Linked DNA regions of Homo sapiens: region 1 is linked to region 2. The links come from fine-mapping of genetic effects on gene expression. A gene starts in region 2. The other region holds a variant in brackets. All regions are shown on one strand. Distances are between the middles of the regions.

Region 1 (9,112 bases), 50 kb after region 2:
GTGAATCTATTACCTGTTTTAAACATTCATAAGATTAAGTGGGCCATTTATAATCAGTATGAGACAAAGACATAAAACTATAAATTCATGATAGAATAACTGGATTGAAATTGCTTATGGTTTTAGTATGTGCCTTGTAAATTTAGAGTCAGAATCTGAGAATGGAGAGTCTTAAATTCCAATGAATAGGTGCACATAAACTGACACTCAATTTTACATTTATTTCATAACTCTTAGATTACAAAAATAATGCATGTTCTTTGTGAAAAAAAGAATGGAATGTACCCAAAAGTACAAAGAAAATAATCATCTGTAATTACATCACCAAGAGATTTAAAAAAAAAAAAAAATGGTGTACATACTTCTGGTCTTTCCTAAGTAATATATTACACAAAATGTGTGATTTAAAGTCAACAATGACTATAAATTCCAAACCCAGTTTCTCTTACTGAAAGAGAAATAGCAGTTGATTTCCGTACTATGGGCGTGAGGCTACACAGGCATTTTCCCTTCATCTTCATTCCAACCCTATGGATTAAATAGACATCTCTCCCAGTTTATAGAGAAGGAAACTGAAGATCTAAGAACGTAAACAACATTAACATGCCCAAAGGTTCACATCTAATAAGTGGCAAAACCAAGTTCAAAACCATATTTGTCTATTATAAAAACCCTTGTTTTTTTACTGTACCATGATGCTGCTCCCATGAGTTTTTTAAAAAAACATGACATACAAAACCGTCCTAGATTATCTTATTACATGGATTACATCAAATGATTGATAGAAATGGGAAAATCACATACAACTTGCCCTCAGCAAAAAAAACTATATTTGACTTTTTAGTGGTTGAAAAGTATCATGGTATTACTCTTCTTTCATCTGTTAGAGTTCCCTGTCACCACCATCATCATAGTTGAAAATCAGTGCTACTGCTAGAAGAAATTTATGGCATTAAAAGAACTGAATGCTGAGTGGAAAATCATGTAAATACAATTTCTTTAGGCATTTATGAAACTACACATTTCTTGGAGTTTGAGTCAGTTTTGCTTTTGAAATGACGAGTCTTTTCTGGAAAAAATAAGATAACATTTATGAATACCTAAAATTTTTAAAGCACTGATTGTCTACCAGGCACTATTATTCATTAAATCCCACAACAGCCCTTTGAAGTAAACATTTTTATTTTCTTTCCTAGTTAATAAATGAGAAGGTTGTCACAGGAAGGTCATAGAACTTGCTCGAGGTTTACAACCAGTCAGTCAGCTTTGGAGTTCAAGAGTGAGCTCACACAGCCTTGCGTCAGAACACATACCCTTAGCCAGTTCAGTGGACTGCATCTTCATCTTCTCTAAGAGTTCTTATGGAACCTCTTTCATAGGAAGAATACATTTAACCCTTTTCCCATTTAGAAAAAAAAGTGCAGCTCACTGCCAGCACTTCTTCAATTTTACATAAATACGCTCTTTGAGGCTGAAGCAAATCTGATTTTCATTGTGAAAAACAAATATACAAACTTCTTGGAGTTATTTCTAAACAGAACTAACATCAGAATAGTCTGAATCATCCGAATCATCAATTTCTGAAAAATTGGATTCATGGAATGAATCTTTGGCCAACAATTGTTTGAGAACGATGTTAACATCACATATAGGAATGCTACATTTTCTAGGACTTGACATTTTCAATGATCAAGAATTTCCATATTTTGTAAATGGAAATACCACTAGTAAAACCAGAATGCTATAAGTAGAATGATATCTTTTGTTTCCAAAGTCAATATACTAGAGTGATCCAAAAATAATAATAAAAACAAGATAATTCATGGCAAAGTTTTTTCAGGGTAAATGCTGCAAGCACCACTGGTGAGTATTCTCGGGGCCAATGGGAACAGGGTAAAAGTTGAGGGAAAAACTCCAATATTATGAGATCATGTGATGGAAGGTAAGTATCCACACATTGTTCCTTGTACCTACTACTGCTGGAAACTATTGGATCAGTCGGTGTTCACTCATTTATCTTCTTGCTCCAGGTAAAACTGCTTCAGTGAAAATAATGGCAGATGTTCCTGTATTTTGCTTGAATGCTTGTTATTACATGAGAGCTACAACACCGCCTAATTTATTGATAAGTTTTTAAAGGATCTTTCCTGACAATATGGTCAGTGATTTTGGCAGACTGATTTTTAGCAATAACCTCAGGTGGCAAAGTAATAGCCTGTCTGCTCTTTTTGTTCTACCTAGAGATAACATTTTCAAATACACTAACCTGCAGTTTATCAACAGGGGTAAAATGGCATTTTGAGCAAGACAACTCTTAGTCGTGGAGAACAATCCTATAACTGTATGGGATAGTTTAGCACTTCTGCCCCACCCCACCTGCCCCCACCACACATACACATAAACAAAAACACTCCCACACTTTTTCAAATGCTGAGTAGGGGGATGACACAGAACTGCCAGGCTAATGAGTAACCAGTATTGACTGGGTCATTCCCCAAAGGAGAAGCTGCTGACAGCTTACAAGCCCCTTCCATAGTTCCATACTCCGTGTGAGCCACAGCTAACACCACGCTGGGGCTGTAGCTGGTCAGGATGATATTTCTGTAGACTGCTTCCTGAAATTTTAAGGGAGAAAGAATTTCTGTTGTTGAAACTGTCACTTACCAGCTAGTTTTGGGAAACCTGCGTGTACCAGCTCTTCATACAGTTGCTTGGCCGGGTCACCCTGAGTCATCAGGGTCCCGTGTAGCCAGATAAGCAGAGCCCTGTGGCCATGTTCACGGAAGCTTTCATTTCCTGTGCCAAGCACAAGAGGTCCGAGGTAAAACACCACGAGCTGCTATCTCTTTCCATTGTGATCTCAGTTCCAACTAAACTTTCTGAATGACTGTTTGCTTGCCTGTTCCTCTTCGAAAAAAGCCCTTCCAGTTGCCCTCGCTGTGCTGCTTTATGATGACCAGCATTTGCTTTCCCTCCAGCCTGTGCTATGCACCTGCTATGCTTGGCACACACCCAAAGGAGTGTACAAGAGAGAGGACAGCTGTGGTGCCTGCCCAGGGGGAACAATTTTAATGAAATATGCAACTTCTCATAGACCAGTGCTCTTCAAACTCACAGTGCTTATTTCACCTGGGTATCTTACTAAAATGCAAGTTTGGATTCAGTAGGTCTGGGGTAAGAATCCATGCATCTAACAAACTCCCGGGTGCTGCTGCCACTGCTGCTCCATATTCCCCACTCTGAGCAGCAAGCATGCACCATTCATTCTGCCACTCCAGTCTCAAGGAAGCTACTCTGAGGGAAGTTTGCATCCCTGGGCCAGGATTATTCATTTGATAAATACTCACTGCATATCTCAGCCTAGAGAGGTGTTGGGGGAAGTACCGGGATAGGGAGCCACAAAGCCTCTGTGGTTCCCAACAGGACTTCACTACAGGCTCCTTGCTCTGAGAGAGAGTGTGCAGGAGCAGACATGCTGTGCAAGGGAAGGGCCTGAGCTCTGCAGGGGTGAGGGAGAAGTTCACTGGACAGACTGATATGGAGAAGCGGGCATTTCAGGGAGAGGGAACTGCATACTTACAGAATGTACTCCTGGACAAGTCCTCTGTTCCTTTCCTAATCTTGCTCTTGACAAACTAATTTTTCTTAAATACCATCATGAGTCTGTCACTCCTTTGATCAAAAGCCCACAAACTCCCCAGTGCCAGTAACCTTACCCTGGATCACAATATAATTGAATTGCAAGTGTCATTGTTATTGTGCCAACTAGATTATAAACTCCATCAAACATGCATGGCTTAGAGAGCTGATGTATCTATCCCTCATCCAGCAGAAATAAACACTCCAGGCCCTCCATAAAGGTTCCATCGAAACACTTTAAAATCCCCCTTATCCTGCTGGCAAGTACTCTGAAGATACACTATATTTTCAAGTCATCTCTTTAGGTCAAGTTAGAGTTCCAGGAGGCAACTCAATTTTCCTAAAGACTTCACAGAACACTATAAGCCTAATTAATGACAAAAAAGAAATCTTAACAATAAAAAAATTTTTCTAGTTAGAAACTAGTTAGTATTCAATGTTTTCAATACATTATCTTCTATTTTTCACATGAAAATGTATCCTAAGAATGTGCAATACAAAGTCTCATAATTTACTTGTATGTGGTATAAATAGTGTGTGCTCATGGACTGTGCTTCTGCCATCCCCAGTTCCCAGCAATCCCTAATACAAATAGACCCCTGAGCAAGGACACCTTCTCGTCTTAGGATGTCCATGAGAGGGCAGTGCTCTGAATAGAAAACTTTGCCAAGAAACATGTTTGCTTCATTGTTTTCAAAGCTAATTAGTTGATTAATGCCAAGTAAACTTTCTATGTTTCCTAGGTTTTCGTCTAACCACAAAAAACAAAATTAAGGAATCTAGCTGACCTGACTTCACTAATTATGACAGTTTGAGTCCAGCTGAAATGATTCCATTGCTTGGAATCATCTAGCCAAGAAAGCCCTCTGAGTCTGTATTTGCCGTGTCGCTCATGGCACAGCCAAGTCTCCCCTAAGGCAGTGTCCTACAACAACCCTTTCTCC[T/C]ACACCCACCTGCTTTAAGGAATTCCTCTTTCTGGAGCGCAGACTTAAACAGCGAGCCTATTGATTACAGAATGAACCCATTCACCCCAGGACAGTCTCAAGGAACATAGAAATCAGATTGGCTTCCCACTGACACACCAACTGTTAAATCCTTGCTTGCTTCCTTAGTGACCGTCCAGTTGGGAATCTTACTGTCTCTCTAGGCTAAATGCACATGTCTGATATGGGTCAATACACATAATCATCCTTTACAAACTTCGGTTTACTGCAGACCATGAGTGTTCACTTTCTGCAAATCTTAATGCCCAAATCACTGGTGTGGACCTAAGCTAACTGCCCCTATTCCTGGGCCCCTTGAAGACTGCAGCTTATTGTGAGTGCCACACACTTCCTTGGAAGACCTCACACCAGGAGGCACTGCTGTTCCTAACAGTGAATTCCTCCTGCCCACATCATCTAGTCTGTACTCACCCGACCACTGCTCCTCAATGGCTCTAATCTGGTCATCTGTAAAGTTCCACGAACGGGCCAGCCTCTGCCACTCATTGGCCTTCAGCTGATGGTAAGCCAGGTCCCAGAGAAGCGTGCGAATGTGTCTGGTCTCCAGACTGTGATCTTGCTTGAATGTCAGAGTAAAGCCTGTTGACGGGTCCCTGATGCTCTCATGATGCTCCTAAAGTGAAAATAATTGTATCAGAAGATTTCAGACATGTTCTACTTATTACCTTATTTCAGAGTATATATGTTTTTCAAACATAACTAGTAAGGTGGTAACCGAGACTATGTTTTCAATGCCTCCTGTCACTGGATCATATATATATTTTTTTTTTTTGCCATCCAAAATGGAAATAAATGCTTGAAATTAAAAGCTTGGGTACCGTCTGTCTGACACAGGAAATGTGAGGGATTTTGCCTATTGTGTCCCATGCTGCTTAGAACAGAGAATGAGAACAGAGAGGCTGTCTTGGCAAAGGATGTGTCACAACAACAAAACCATCTTTAATGGCCTTTGTTTGAACCCATACCCCCATTTCTTCTTTTGGGTATTTGATGTTCTCATATTGAAGCTTCGGTGAGCCCAGATTGGCTGTATCCTTAATAAGACCCCACAGCTGGTCCCTCATTCATCCTGCTCTCTGGTGAGCATAAGGAGAGTAAACTAGGAGCCTAGCTCAGGCTGGGGCTTGGGGAAGAGGTGACTAAGGGAGTGGAGAGGACAGGAGTGGACATCATTTAAAGTCACTATAGCCAGGCTCAGACCAACAGCACTATGCCTAGATTGGCATCTTGTTTTCTGACTGTTGAAAGGTTCCTTTTGTCCCTTCTGCAGAATCCACCAGAGTCCTGCAGAATCAAACCACAAACACCGGAGAAAATCACTGAGTGAAAGCAGGCATCACTGCTTCCTAGAACTGCATGCTGTGCTTATGCCACTAGGCCTCCAGGTAATCCTCCTGCAGAAGTTTGCAGATCAGTTAAGGACATGCAGGACAAGTGGCCCACCAAGAAGTCTGGGACTTCCTTTCTCATGTATAGTGACTTCTATTTTTGTCTTTCACTTAAATAGAGGTGTATCTTAATGAAAATATTCTTGACAACAAGATGGGAATCCAGGCTGGGGCAGGAAATGAACCAAAACTGTCTAGGACCCTGGGTTTAAAAACTGATGAGAAGAACTTGATGGGCCCCCACCATGGATCCTTCACAGCATCAGAAACCTCCTCCAGGAAGCTCGACAAGGGAAATGCAATAAGCTCCTCCCGGGAAGCTTGGCCAAGAAGGGCAAAACCTTCCTCTAGTATCTGAACTTTGTGTACAGAAGTTGAAATAGGAATGGGAGGTGTGAATTACCCATAATTGTTTTAGAGACTGTAAAAAGCAGGGTCTTCTCCAACCCAGCCTCAGCTTTACTTCCACAGTGCCTAGCTCCCAGGAATTCTAAAAGAAGTAAGATTGAGGATGGGGAGCTCCAGCAAACTTGGGAGCTGTGGGCCACTTCACTTTGTCCTTCTCTCCTCATTCCATCTCCTGAAACAATGATGAATCCAACAAGATCAAGAGCCTAAATGTCACAAGGGAAAGGGAAGAACACAAAATGCTTCTGCATCTATCTTTGTGCGATAACATTTTTAGCTCTTCAAGAAACTTACATGGTTTGTGCCTTTCAGGATTGGATTGGGTGGTCCCTTAGGCTTCCATTGAAAAGGGCAGGAGATTTGGAAAGCCTAGGTCTTTTTCAGCAGCCAGTGAAGCATTAAATAGCTTGCCTGCCAAAACACTGAACTATTTGCAGGAATAACATGAGCCAGAACTGGTGGAAATTAAAATAACATAAGCCAGGTTTTAGGAAGCTCCCATTTGCCTCTGAACCACTGAATTTAATAATGGATGATTGGGTGGTTAGGTTAATGGATAAATGGATATGAGAGAGGAAATTTAAATCATATCTTTAATCCTTTTACTAGGAACCATTTTATATTAGGCGAGGATATAAACTTGTTCAATGAACAAAGAGAATTTAAAATAATAAATGCATTTGGTTAAAAAAATATTTAAAGATGTATCTTAAAAAACAAGTATTTCTCCCACTCCAGACCCCAGGACCCCAATTGTCACCGGAGTTAACAACTCTTACCATTTCTGGGGGTCTCCTTTAGCTATATTCATGTTTTATATATGGTTTTCAAAGTATACCTAACTCTTATGTCTTAAAGATTCATTAGGAAAGAGGGCATATTCATTTGGTGGGAAAGTAATTTATTCTTATCTACCCAAAATAATTTTTAAAGAGCTATCAGGAATTAAAAATAGAACCAATGAATATTTCTATTTCCAAAGAAAATGTGAAAGCAAGTTAAAGAGAAAGAGAAAAGATGGAACTTGGCAAAGTTGTCTTCAATAAAATACAATGATAATTTAAGAAATTGAGCCTGAGGATAGGAAAAGAGGAAGAGGTAAAGGGAGGAGATGGAAGAACATAGAAATATGAGGAATGGGAGAGAAGAAACAGAGTTCCAATTGTTAAAATAAAAAGTTTTACAAGCAAAGCACTTTTTTTGTTTTGTTTTACAGGCAAGAAAAGTTGCAAGGAGGATGGTGTGACCTTTAAAAGAATCCATATATATCAAGACTACCAAGCTAATTAAACAGGATTGTGAGAGAGAAGGAGATGAGTAAATGCTTTTTGCTTTAAGGATTTAAGGGAAATTTCCCAAGACTGGCCAGGTGGACAGCAATCCAGGTTTGTAGAAACTCAGGGTGGGCTCCAAGTGATTAGGGCCTGAATTCTGGAGCTAACACATTGGGCCAGGGGTAGCCACGCAGCCTAGAATGGAAACAACACATCACTATAAATCAAGAATGGTGCCTGGCAGTGCCATTCTTGCCTGAGGGCATGGAGTTGAATCTTGCAGGGGAGGGCAGTCTATTGAGAAGCTGCATGGGTAGCAGATATCAGAGGAAATAAAAATAAAAGAACAGCAAAAAGAATGACTTACAGACAAGTTTTTTTGTGTTCTTAGATGAATAAGGTTTTCGTGACTCTCACAGAATACTTGAGTGCCTGAAAGCCTGCACAGCGGTGTGTTGAAAACTGCCGAGCCACACAAAGGAGTTTTTTAACCACTCATTCGTGCTACTGGGAATAGCTCATGGCCAGACTGTGGACAGAGGGAACAACCAGGCGTCACCCATCAGGGGCTCACACGCTAGGCCCATTATAGCTGGCCTGGTCAATGCCGCTTGGCCCTAGTGAACTCTACGCGCTCTCAGTTCTGACGTCTGATGTCCACAAAGGAAGAGGCAGCTGTTCATTCCACGAATGGGGGCAGCACAAGACAGAAGGGACAGTTATAATTGTACTGACCAGAGCTCTGCTCATTAGAGCAAAGAATGGCACAGACCCCCCCATTGCCCCTGCAAGAAGATGGGTGTTGCCAGGAAAGCCCCTGCTGTGCTGGGATCGTCCTTCCTTACCTCTCTCCAGGCGTAGTATCTCTCTGCTTTAATGAGCATGCCCACGACAAGGCTATGGTTGCTCCTGGAGGCCACAGCCAGGGCAGTCTTTCCTTGCTAAAATTAAAAAAGAAAAAAAATTCAGGTGATATGGCCTAGTGATTAGGAGCTCTAGTTTTGGAACAAGGGGGCCTCGGTTCAAATCTTGATTCTACCAGCCCATGCTGGGTAAACTTAGGCCAGTCCTTTGCTTCTTTGGGTCTTTATAACTACCCCATAGTGGAGTGGTCAGGGGTAAATGTGATAATGCATATAAAGCCTTTAGAACCTGTGCCACCCTGAATATTTCCTAGCCTCTTTTGCAGTTAGTTATGTGACCTAAGTTCTGGCCAATGGTCTGTAAATAGAAGTGGGACATGCAACTTCTGGGAAGTATCTTTAAACAGAAGAGAGATGAATGGCATTTTCCTTCTTTTCTTCTCCCTCCTGAGTGGAATGCTGACATGATGGCAGGAGCCTGAACAGCCACTTTAGACCAGGAAGTAGAAGCCATGTTTTGAGGAGCACTGAGTAAT
Region 2 (9,112 bases):
TGAAAAATTGACCCTCAAATATAAAAACTTTTTTAAAAAGATGTTTTCTCATACTACAGAACTAGCAGGAGAGTTATATTCCACATGGTCATGCAGCCCACCATAGTGGGAAAAGAGAAGAAGACTTGGAGAAAGACACCTAATGTCTTAAATCCCAGTTCACAGGAAGTGATACACTGCATTTCCACTCACATTCTATGGCTTCTGGCCTCACTTAATTGATAGGTAGGTGGAAAAGGTAGTCCTGCTATGCAGCTATATGCTCAGCTTCAATTAGTTTACTAGAGCAGGAGGGAACTGATATTGAGAGACAGAAAAAGAGAGAGAGAGAGACAATAGATTTACGTTCAGGTCCTGGTTTAGATGTAGAGTTAGATTTTATATGTTCTAATACTTTCTCAATTTTAAAGAGATGAAACTCAAGCATATAAAGAATGTACACCTGCCCCAAAGTTTCCTACCTGATAAGTGGTACATTTGGGGACTCCAGCATAGTCCTTTTGGTGTTTTGTGGGGCTTGGTTTAGGAGAGCTTTGGATGCCATGCAATACCGTGGAAGGCTTTTGGATAGGTGATGCAATCCAGTGATATTCTAAGAAGATAGTTTATCAGCAGTGTGAAGAGTGAATTGTAGAAAGAAGAAATGAAGGCATACAATCAAGAAACAGTCCAAGCCAAATTCAGCAGTGGCTTAACCAAAAACATGAGAGATGGAAAGAAGACAGGTACTAGAGGAGGTTCAGAACTTGGGGCCCATGGAAGGGCCAAGACATGGGGGAACTCCATATTGTCAAACACAATAGTCACTTCACTAGCATTTTACTGAAGCCTCTGCTGGTTTTCCTCCCACTTCTCCAGCACCTCCTTCTCAGTCTCCTTTGCTGGCTCCTCCATTGCTACCCAACCTCTAAACATTAGAGGACATCAGGGTTCAGTTCCAAATCCTCTTCTCTACTCATTTTGCTCTCCCCCACTAGATTGTCTCATCTAGTTCTTTGGCTTTAAAGTGCATCTGTATCAGTTATCTATTGTCATAATAAGCTTACATAACAAACCACCCTAAACACAGTGACTTTAAACAGTCAATAATAATTGAGTTCATGACTCTGTAGGTTGTCTGGGTGGTTCTTAGATTCACACACCTGTTGGGGAGTCAAATGGCTATAGGCTGACCTAGGATGGCCTTGGCTAGGATGACTGGGGCAACTTGGCTCTACTACATGTGTCTTTCATCTTCCAGCAGGCTAGCCCAGGCGTATTTCATCGTTGTAACAGAGGGCAAGAGCAAGCTAAGCCAAGCACGTAAGTATTTTGAAACTTCCGCTTGCATCATATTTGTTAACATTCCGTTGGTCATTAGTAGAGAAGCACTCCAAGTGAAATTGCATGGCACAGGACATCAATACCTGGAGAGATGTAGAATTGGAGCCATTTTTGCAATCCTCCACAAAATCTATATGCAAAAGCCACCCAGTTTATATATCTAGGCAGTGACCTCTTTTCTGAGCCCTAGACATGTAAGTTCAGTGGTCTGATGGATACTCCATTTGGGTATCTCCAGATATTTCATGTTTAAAGAATGTTTAAAATTCAATTTTGATCTTCCACTTTCAAAACCTGCTCCTCTTCCAGTGTTCTCCTCAATATCTGATGCTGTCATCCACTCAGTTGCTCAAGCGAGAAACCTGAAACCTGGAGTCCTTCACACTTTTCTCTCCTTCACCTCAGATACAGTCCAAATCCTATCATCAAGTCCCACCAATTATACCTCCAAAACATACAGTTGGCCCCCTATATCCTCAGGTCCCACATCAGCAGATTTAGCCAACCGTGGATCAAAAATATTCAAAAAAGTAAATTTTAAAAGTAAAAAATAATACAAATAAAAAACAATAAAATATAACAACCATTTACATACATATATTTACATTATGTTAGGTATTATAAGTAATCTAGAGATTATTTAAAGTACATGGGAGGATGTCTGTAGGTTATATGCAAATACTATACCATTTTATATAAGCGAATTGAGCATCCTCAATTTTGGTATTTACTTTGGCGGAGGGGGAGGGGAAGACATCAGGAGTGGTCCTGGAACCAATCCCTAGGAATAGCAAGTGATGACTGTATCTCATTTCTGTCTTCTCTCCATCTCCTTTGCCACTCGTCTAGTTCAAGTTGTCCTCATCTCTCTCCTGAATATCTAAAATACATCCCATTGAACTTAAAATCTCAAATCCTTAACAAGTCCTGCATAGTTGGGCCTCCATCTCTATCTGCAGCCTCATCCTGTGCCACTTTCTCTTCACTCACTTAGCCCTTTCTTACCTTAAGACCATGGCATGCCGTCCCCAACAGAACATCTTGAGTGATAAGAACATGGACTCTGTTCTTACCAGCTACATGAACCTGGGAAAGCTGCATAACCTCTCTGTGCTTCAGTTTCTCTATCTGAAAAATGAGGATAAGAATAGCACCTACGTTAATTTAATTCTCAGTGAGCGAATTCCTACCCTCATTTTTCAGATACAGAAACCGAAGTACAGAGAGGTTATGCAGCTTGCCCAGGTTCACACAGCTGTTATGTATTCATATGTGTGGTGGATTTGTTGGTTTGATATCGGTTTTTCCCATTAGACTCTTAGTTCCATGAGGGCAAACTGTGTTTTGCTCACCACTCTATCCCCAGCACCAACAAAAATTTGCTTTGCCTGTGACAGATGTTAAATATTTGTGTTGAATGAATAAATAATTATGAAGGGTTCAAGCTGGCAACCAAGTTATTATGGGTTTGTGGGGGCTTTAAATTCTCTCTCTCTCTCTTTCCCTCCCTCTCTAGGAACCTTGGGAAAAGATATCAGTTCTAAATTCATAACATCCAGACAAGGTTCTGTCTCTTTCTCTCTATAGTTTTACAGGAGAATGGGATTGTTTACTAAATGGTTTGCGATAAAAATCTCTCCTCCCCAAAAAGGAAGACAGAAAAGAGAAACTTGGAGCCTAGTGGCAGGAGGGCACCAGAAGAGTGATTCAGTATCAATTATAGTGTATGGGGTCACCAAAAGGCAATTCAATTAAAAAACAAATACTAGAACCAAGTATGAATTTGCAGCTATTAATAGGAACTTGTCCTCTATAATAAGCATGAAAAAAAAGGGGGAGAACAAACATAATTTATGCCAAAGAAACTTCTGGTGCTCTTCTTACTTGTTTGTGTAAGTAGAAGTCTGGTTCTGCCAACATAAAAGTAAGTGAGACCCAGGTTATGTCATTTCTATCTACAGAAAAAGAAACCTTATACTGGAGGTAACAGAAGGGAGCCTGAAAACTCACCCAGATCTCAGTATCTGTTCTTCAGATTGCAGAACCCCAGTCTGGGCTACTTAGGTACCTTTGCCATCTGGGTCCTCATACCTCTAGCCTATCTGTTGCCAATGTAAGTTGAAAGACTATATGTTTGTGTGTTCGGTGTTTTAGATATATTAATTCCTTTAATCTCCTACCACCTTAGTATGTGAGTAGTATTATCCAAGGTGACAGCGAGTAGATGGTAAAGCTAGATTATAATTATGATCTGATTCTAAGGCCAATACTTCACCAGAAGGCTCTATCTTGAAGTCTGACACGTTTGAGATTAGTTAAAACTAGACTACCAATTTTGGTTTTTTCTTTGTTTTTTGAGACAGAGTCTCACTATCACCCAGGCAGGAGTGCAGTGGCGATATCTTGGCTCACTGCAACCTCTGCCTCCTGGGTTTAAGGGATTCTCCTGCCTCAGCCTTCGGAGTAGCTGGGACTACAGGCGTAAGCCACCACACCCGGCTAATTTTTGTATTTTTAGTAGAGATGGGGTTTCACCATGTTGGCCAGCCTGGTCTCGAACTCCTGACCGCAGGTGATCCGCCTGCCTCGTCCTCCCAAAGTGTTGGGATTACAGGCGTGAGCCAACGCGCCCAGCCTAGACTAGCAATTTCTCAAAGGGTGGTCTGCAGACTCCTGCATCAGAATCACTGGCAGTGTGTGTTAAAAATTCAGATTTCCTGACGGTGTCCATGACCGAAGGAATCAACACCTTCGGCCGGGCGTGGTGGCTCACGCCTGTAATCCCAGCACTTTGGGAGGCCGAGGTGGGCGGAACACCTGAGGTCAGGAGTTCGAGACCAGCCTGGCCAACATGGTGAAACTCCATCTCTACTAAAAATACAAAAATTAGCCAGGCGTGGTGGCGGTCGTCTGTAATCCCAGCTACTCGGGAGGCTGAGGCAGGAGAATCCCTTGAACCTGGGAGGCGGAGGTTGCAGTGAGCCGAGATAGTGCCACTGCACACCAGCCTGGACGGCAGAGCAAGACTCCATCTCAAAAAAAAAAAAAGCACCTCCAAGTGATTCTGTTGCAGGGGATCTGTGGATGATGCAGATTTTTTTTTTGTTTTTAATTTTTTATAGAGAAAGGGTCTCCCTATGTTCCCCAGACTAGTCTCGAACTCCCGGGCTCAAGCGATCCTCCCACTTCGGCCTCCCAAAGTGCCGGGATTACTGGCATGAACCACCACACCTGGCCCAGAATTTCGGATTGTTCTTATGCAGACGAAAGCATTAGGACTCATATCTAGGTTACCGGAATTGTTGAAAGCCAACAGCACACGGCATTAGCCAACTTCAGCCCTGCTCAACAGCCTCTATCCAAATCAGCTCCCGGAGCCGCTTAGCAGCCTGCAGCCGCTGAACAGAACTGAGCACGCGCAATATTTAATCCCCACGGGCGCTGGGTGGGGCTCCCTAGGACCCCGCCCCCTACCAACCTGCGGAGCCAGGGGGCGGGGCTCTCCAAAGTAATTCCGGCTTCTCCCGGCAGCGGCCCAAATCCCCGCCCCCAGCTCTCGGACCAATCAAACGGCAGATTGCTGAAACAAAGGACCAATGCCCAGGGCGGTCCTTAATTCCTCCCTGCAGTTTGAAACTGTCAGGTTGCCGTCTAGGTAGCGGTTGTGCTTGCTGAGGCTGCACTTGCTGACACTGCAGCTGCGACGCGGCTAAGAGGCGCAGAGCGAGGAGTCGGGATTTGGTCGCGAGCGGCGACGGTGGGTAGCAGCGCTCCGGGCAGATCCTGCGTCCCTGCATCCCTGGCGAAAGTAGTGGAGGGAGATTTAAAGTTCCTTGGCGCGTGTTTCCTCCCCCTGGGCTCTTCCCCAGACCGCGAGTGATTCAGCTGTTGTGCCGGAAGGTCCCAAAGTTTCCCCTCCGAGGCGTGCAGGAAGAGGAAGTGAGCAGGAGTGAGGGATGCTGAGCGATTACTGTCATCAGAGGTTCCGGTCACTTAAAACGTTGAGAAAAAATAACCATGTATAAAGCTCTGTTGTGCTTAAGTAAGATTTTTCTTAAAACAGGCTGGGTCGGAAGGTGATGGAAGAAAACTTATGGCCTTTTGCTTACTGCAATGGCTTTTCTCCTCTGCTTCTAGTCCCTGCTTTGGGGAGGGGCTGGCGCGCCCCTTTCCTTGAGTGCAGCTAGGCCTGGTGAAAGGCACAGGCGACATCACCCTGCTGCTAGTTTGCATGTTAATTCGCTCTTCCTTTGCCTCTTGGGGGTTCCATTTGAATTCCCAGACCCCTGTTTTGCTGTCAGCCAGATAATTACCAAGATGTTATTTTATGTTTCTGGCAACAGAGAAGCACACAAAAGTTTTGATCTTGTTTTCTGATACCTTGGATTAGAGACTACTGAAAATGTAGTGAACTAATGTGCGTCCGCCACCCATTAAAGCAGTTTTCATTTTTCTCCTTTGTTTCTGAACCTAGAAACAGTAAGGAAAATGCTACTGTTCTAGAGTTTCAAATAACTCATACCTTGTTGACATAAAGCAGGGCAGATGGAAGATAGCATATTTTCCAAGAGTGCGGTGGGTTTTTTTGTGTCTGCAGTGTGTCCATATTAAGAAACAATTTTTGAGATCTGACCATACTTACTAGCTCATTTTTAAATAATCAGCACCCCCCCCCCCCCACCCCTGTTACCTGCCTGGTCTCAAATCCTGAAGGAAGAAGTGAATAAAAATATAAATGGACCAAGTTATCACAGTGGTAGATTTGAAGTCAGTGAAGCAGCCATTCCTTGCTGCAGATACATGCACTTATTTTATCCTCCCTAATTGGCTTAACTAAAGACAGTCATGCTGAGATTTAGTTTACTTAACATGTGTATGCACAGTGATACTCACTGGAAAAAGTTGAACTTTCCTTTCCACAATTTAGTTCCAGCCTGTGTTTCCATTCTATTTTTGCACTTTTCCCTGTATCTTCCTTTTCTATTTCAATTTCCTCATCTCTCATTTATTTTTCAGCCCACTGTGACTAAGACCTGTAATTGTTTTACTTTCCAGTGAAATTGTTCAAGCAAACGTCTCAGCAACCTCCTAATCTCCAAATTCTATCCAATCCTCATGGTTCTTTGGCATCTAATTCTATTTTCTTCTCAAAGTTGTGATATTGCTTCCATAGTTCTAATGTTCTGACTTCCTTTGCTGACTCCTCTTCTTTGCTGACTGTTCTTCTCTTGCCCTTTAGATGTTAGTGGTTCTGGCTTTAACCCTCTTCTCATTCACAGTCGTAGTCCTTAACTCTATTAGGGCTATGGTCCCCTCTGAACGCATATTTAAAGCGAAAGATCTTCTTTCTAGAAAAATACACATTCACATTTATGATAAAAATATTGCATACGAGTCGGGTATAGGGACCTGATATGGTTAGGTCTTGTGTCCCCACTCAAATCCCATCTTCAATTGTAATCTCCACATGTAGGGGAAGGGAAGTGATTGGATTATAAGGGCGATTTCCCCCGTGCTGTTCTCATGATAGTGAATTCTCACGAGATCTGATGGTTTTATAAATGGTAGTTTTTCCTGCACTCTCTCACATACTGTCTCACCTGCCGCCATCTAAGATGTGCCTGCTTCCCCTTCTACCATGATTTTAAGTTTCCTGAGGCCTCCCCAGACATGCGGAACTGTGAGTCAATAAAAATTCTTTTATTTATAAATTACCCAGTTTTGGGCAGTTCTTTTTTTTTTTTTTTTTTTTTGAGACGGAGTCTCACTCTGTCGCCCAGGCTGGAGTGCAGCGGCGCGATCTTGGCTCACTATGAGCTCCGCCTCCCGGGTTCACGCCATTCTCCTGCCTCAGCCTCCCAAGTAGCTGGGACTACAGGCGCCCACCACCACGCCAGGCTAATTTTTTGTATTTAGTGGAGACGGGGTTTCACCGTGTTAGCTAGTATGGTCTTGATCTCCTGACCTCGTAATCCTCCCACCTCAGCCTCCCAAAGTGCTGGGATTGCAGGCATGAGCCACCGTGCCCGGCCTGGGCAGTTCTTTATAGCAGTTTGAAAAACGTACTAATACAGGACCTCAGGATAAGAACTTTTTCTCACATTCCTTTTTTATAGGTGGTCTCATCCATTCCCTTTTTTCAGCAGTTCCCATTATGCCAGTGATTCCTCAAACTGGATCTCCAACTTATACCTCCAGTGCGGCGCTCCCACAATGCTTAACTCCAGGAAACACCATTCACAGTGTAGCCATTGTGAATGGCAGTTCTTGGAGTAGCGCACTACGTAGCCAGTGTGACCACAGACTGCATACTTGCAGCTTTACCCTAGTGCCTCAGAGGCATCCTCACACCCAGCTCATCTGATATGGCACTCATTGTCCTTCCTCCCAACCTGCTCATCTTCCTACCTTCCTTGCCTTGGTGAGTGGCACTATCCATCTAGTTACCCAAACCGGAGATCTGGAAGCCACCAACAGTTCTTTTTAACCCCTTGATCTATTATTGATCATTTTCTCTTTCCATCACCATAACACAACTGTCTTGTAGTCATACCCTCCATCCCCTTCCCATTGCTACTTCCTAGACTTAGGTCATCATTTATCTTCTTAATTACTATCAAAGAGAACATTTATCTCTTAGACTACTGCAGTCAGCTCTCAATTGATCTCTCTCTCTTTTTTTTTTGAGACGGAGTCTCTGTCACCCAGGCTGGAGTGCAGTGGTGCGATCTTGGCTCACTGCAGCCTCCACCCCCAGGGTTCTAGCTATTCTCCTGCCTCAGCCTCCCAAGTAGCTGGGATTACAGGCACCTGCCACCAGGCTCGGCTAATTGTTTTGTATTTTTAATAGAGACAGGGTTTCGCCATGTTGGCCAGGCTGGTCTCAAACTCCTGACCTCAGGTGATCCACCTACCTCAGCCTCCCAAAGTGCTAGGATTACAGGCATGATTCACTGCACCCAGCCTGATCTCTCTTAATATCCAAATTCATCCTCAACGCTGCTGGAATGATCTTTCTGATCATGTAACTTTTAAAAAATATTTCAATAACTTGTCTAGAATAAACACCCAGATTTTTAATATGACAAGTTTTGACCTTCCATGATCTGGCTGCTCCTTACTTTTTGTTTCATCCTTAGCCAATCCTTTGCACCCATTGCTTTGTCCTTACCAAACTGCTTGCTGTTCGTGGCATACATGTCCATGGCTCTGTCTTTGCTTATATTGCTCTACTGCCTAGAATATCTACACCTGTGTTTATACCTTTTATCCATCTTTCAGGATGAGACCTACTCATCTTTCAGATCTCAACACCTGGGTCATCTTCTCTAAAAACTTTCTGTGCCTCCTTTCCTGCTTATTTACAGTCATGCAATCTTACCCCATGAAAAATAGCTACTCCTATCTCTCTACTTTGTATCTGTTATTTTAGGGCCTATCAGCAGTTTATTCATCAGTCGGTCACTTATATAATATACATGCCTGGCCCTCTCTACAGATTGTAAACTCCTTAAGAATGAGGACTTCATTTTACATTCCTCACCAATGTCTTACATATTACTGGTATTCAGATAGTTCGAATAGTCACTATTTGTTCTTTGAATAATTCGGTTACTTGTTACTAAAAGTACTTTTAATGATTTTTTGATTAGGACTTTCAACAAATTCTCTATGCATATATTTGATTCTGTTGTTCTGTATAAGCTCACTTTTCTTAAAATAATATTTCCAAAGGTAAGTTTCCCAAGAAGGGAATTTGCACAAATTGTTTGTTCTCTCTTGGTTCTGT

Evidence for each region. PIP is the estimated chance that this variant, and not a neighbour inherited with it, causes the effect.
Region 1: its variant is fine-mapped to the expression of POC5 in whole blood (INTERVAL, PIP 0.92).

Annotation. Positions count from the first base shown.
Region 1 is chr5:75,662,936-75,672,047 of GRCh38, reverse strand. ANKDD1B (ankyrin repeat and death domain containing 1B) reads right to left here. Exons shown (of 14, transcript NM_001276713.2): 11 at 8,559-8,654; 12 at 5,055-5,256; 13 at 2,665-2,796; 14 at 202-1,069. The coding sequence ends at 1,008. Among named protein-coding and RNA genes, the nearest start is that of POC5, 50 kb to the left of the region's middle. RefSeq lists enhancers at 4,568-5,069, 7,480-8,679. The variant T/C (reference allele first, on the strand shown) is at 4,584.
Region 2 is chr5:75,713,274-75,722,385 of GRCh38, reverse strand. It overlaps POC5 (POC5 centriolar protein), which reads left to right and starts at 4,949. Exons shown (of 12, transcript NM_001099271.2): 1 at 4,949-5,080. LOC441087 (a long non-coding RNA gene) reads right to left here and starts at 4,954. Exons shown (of 3, transcript NR_149046.1): 1 at 4,802-4,954; 2 at 2,329-2,451. RefSeq lists an enhancer at 5,244-5,553.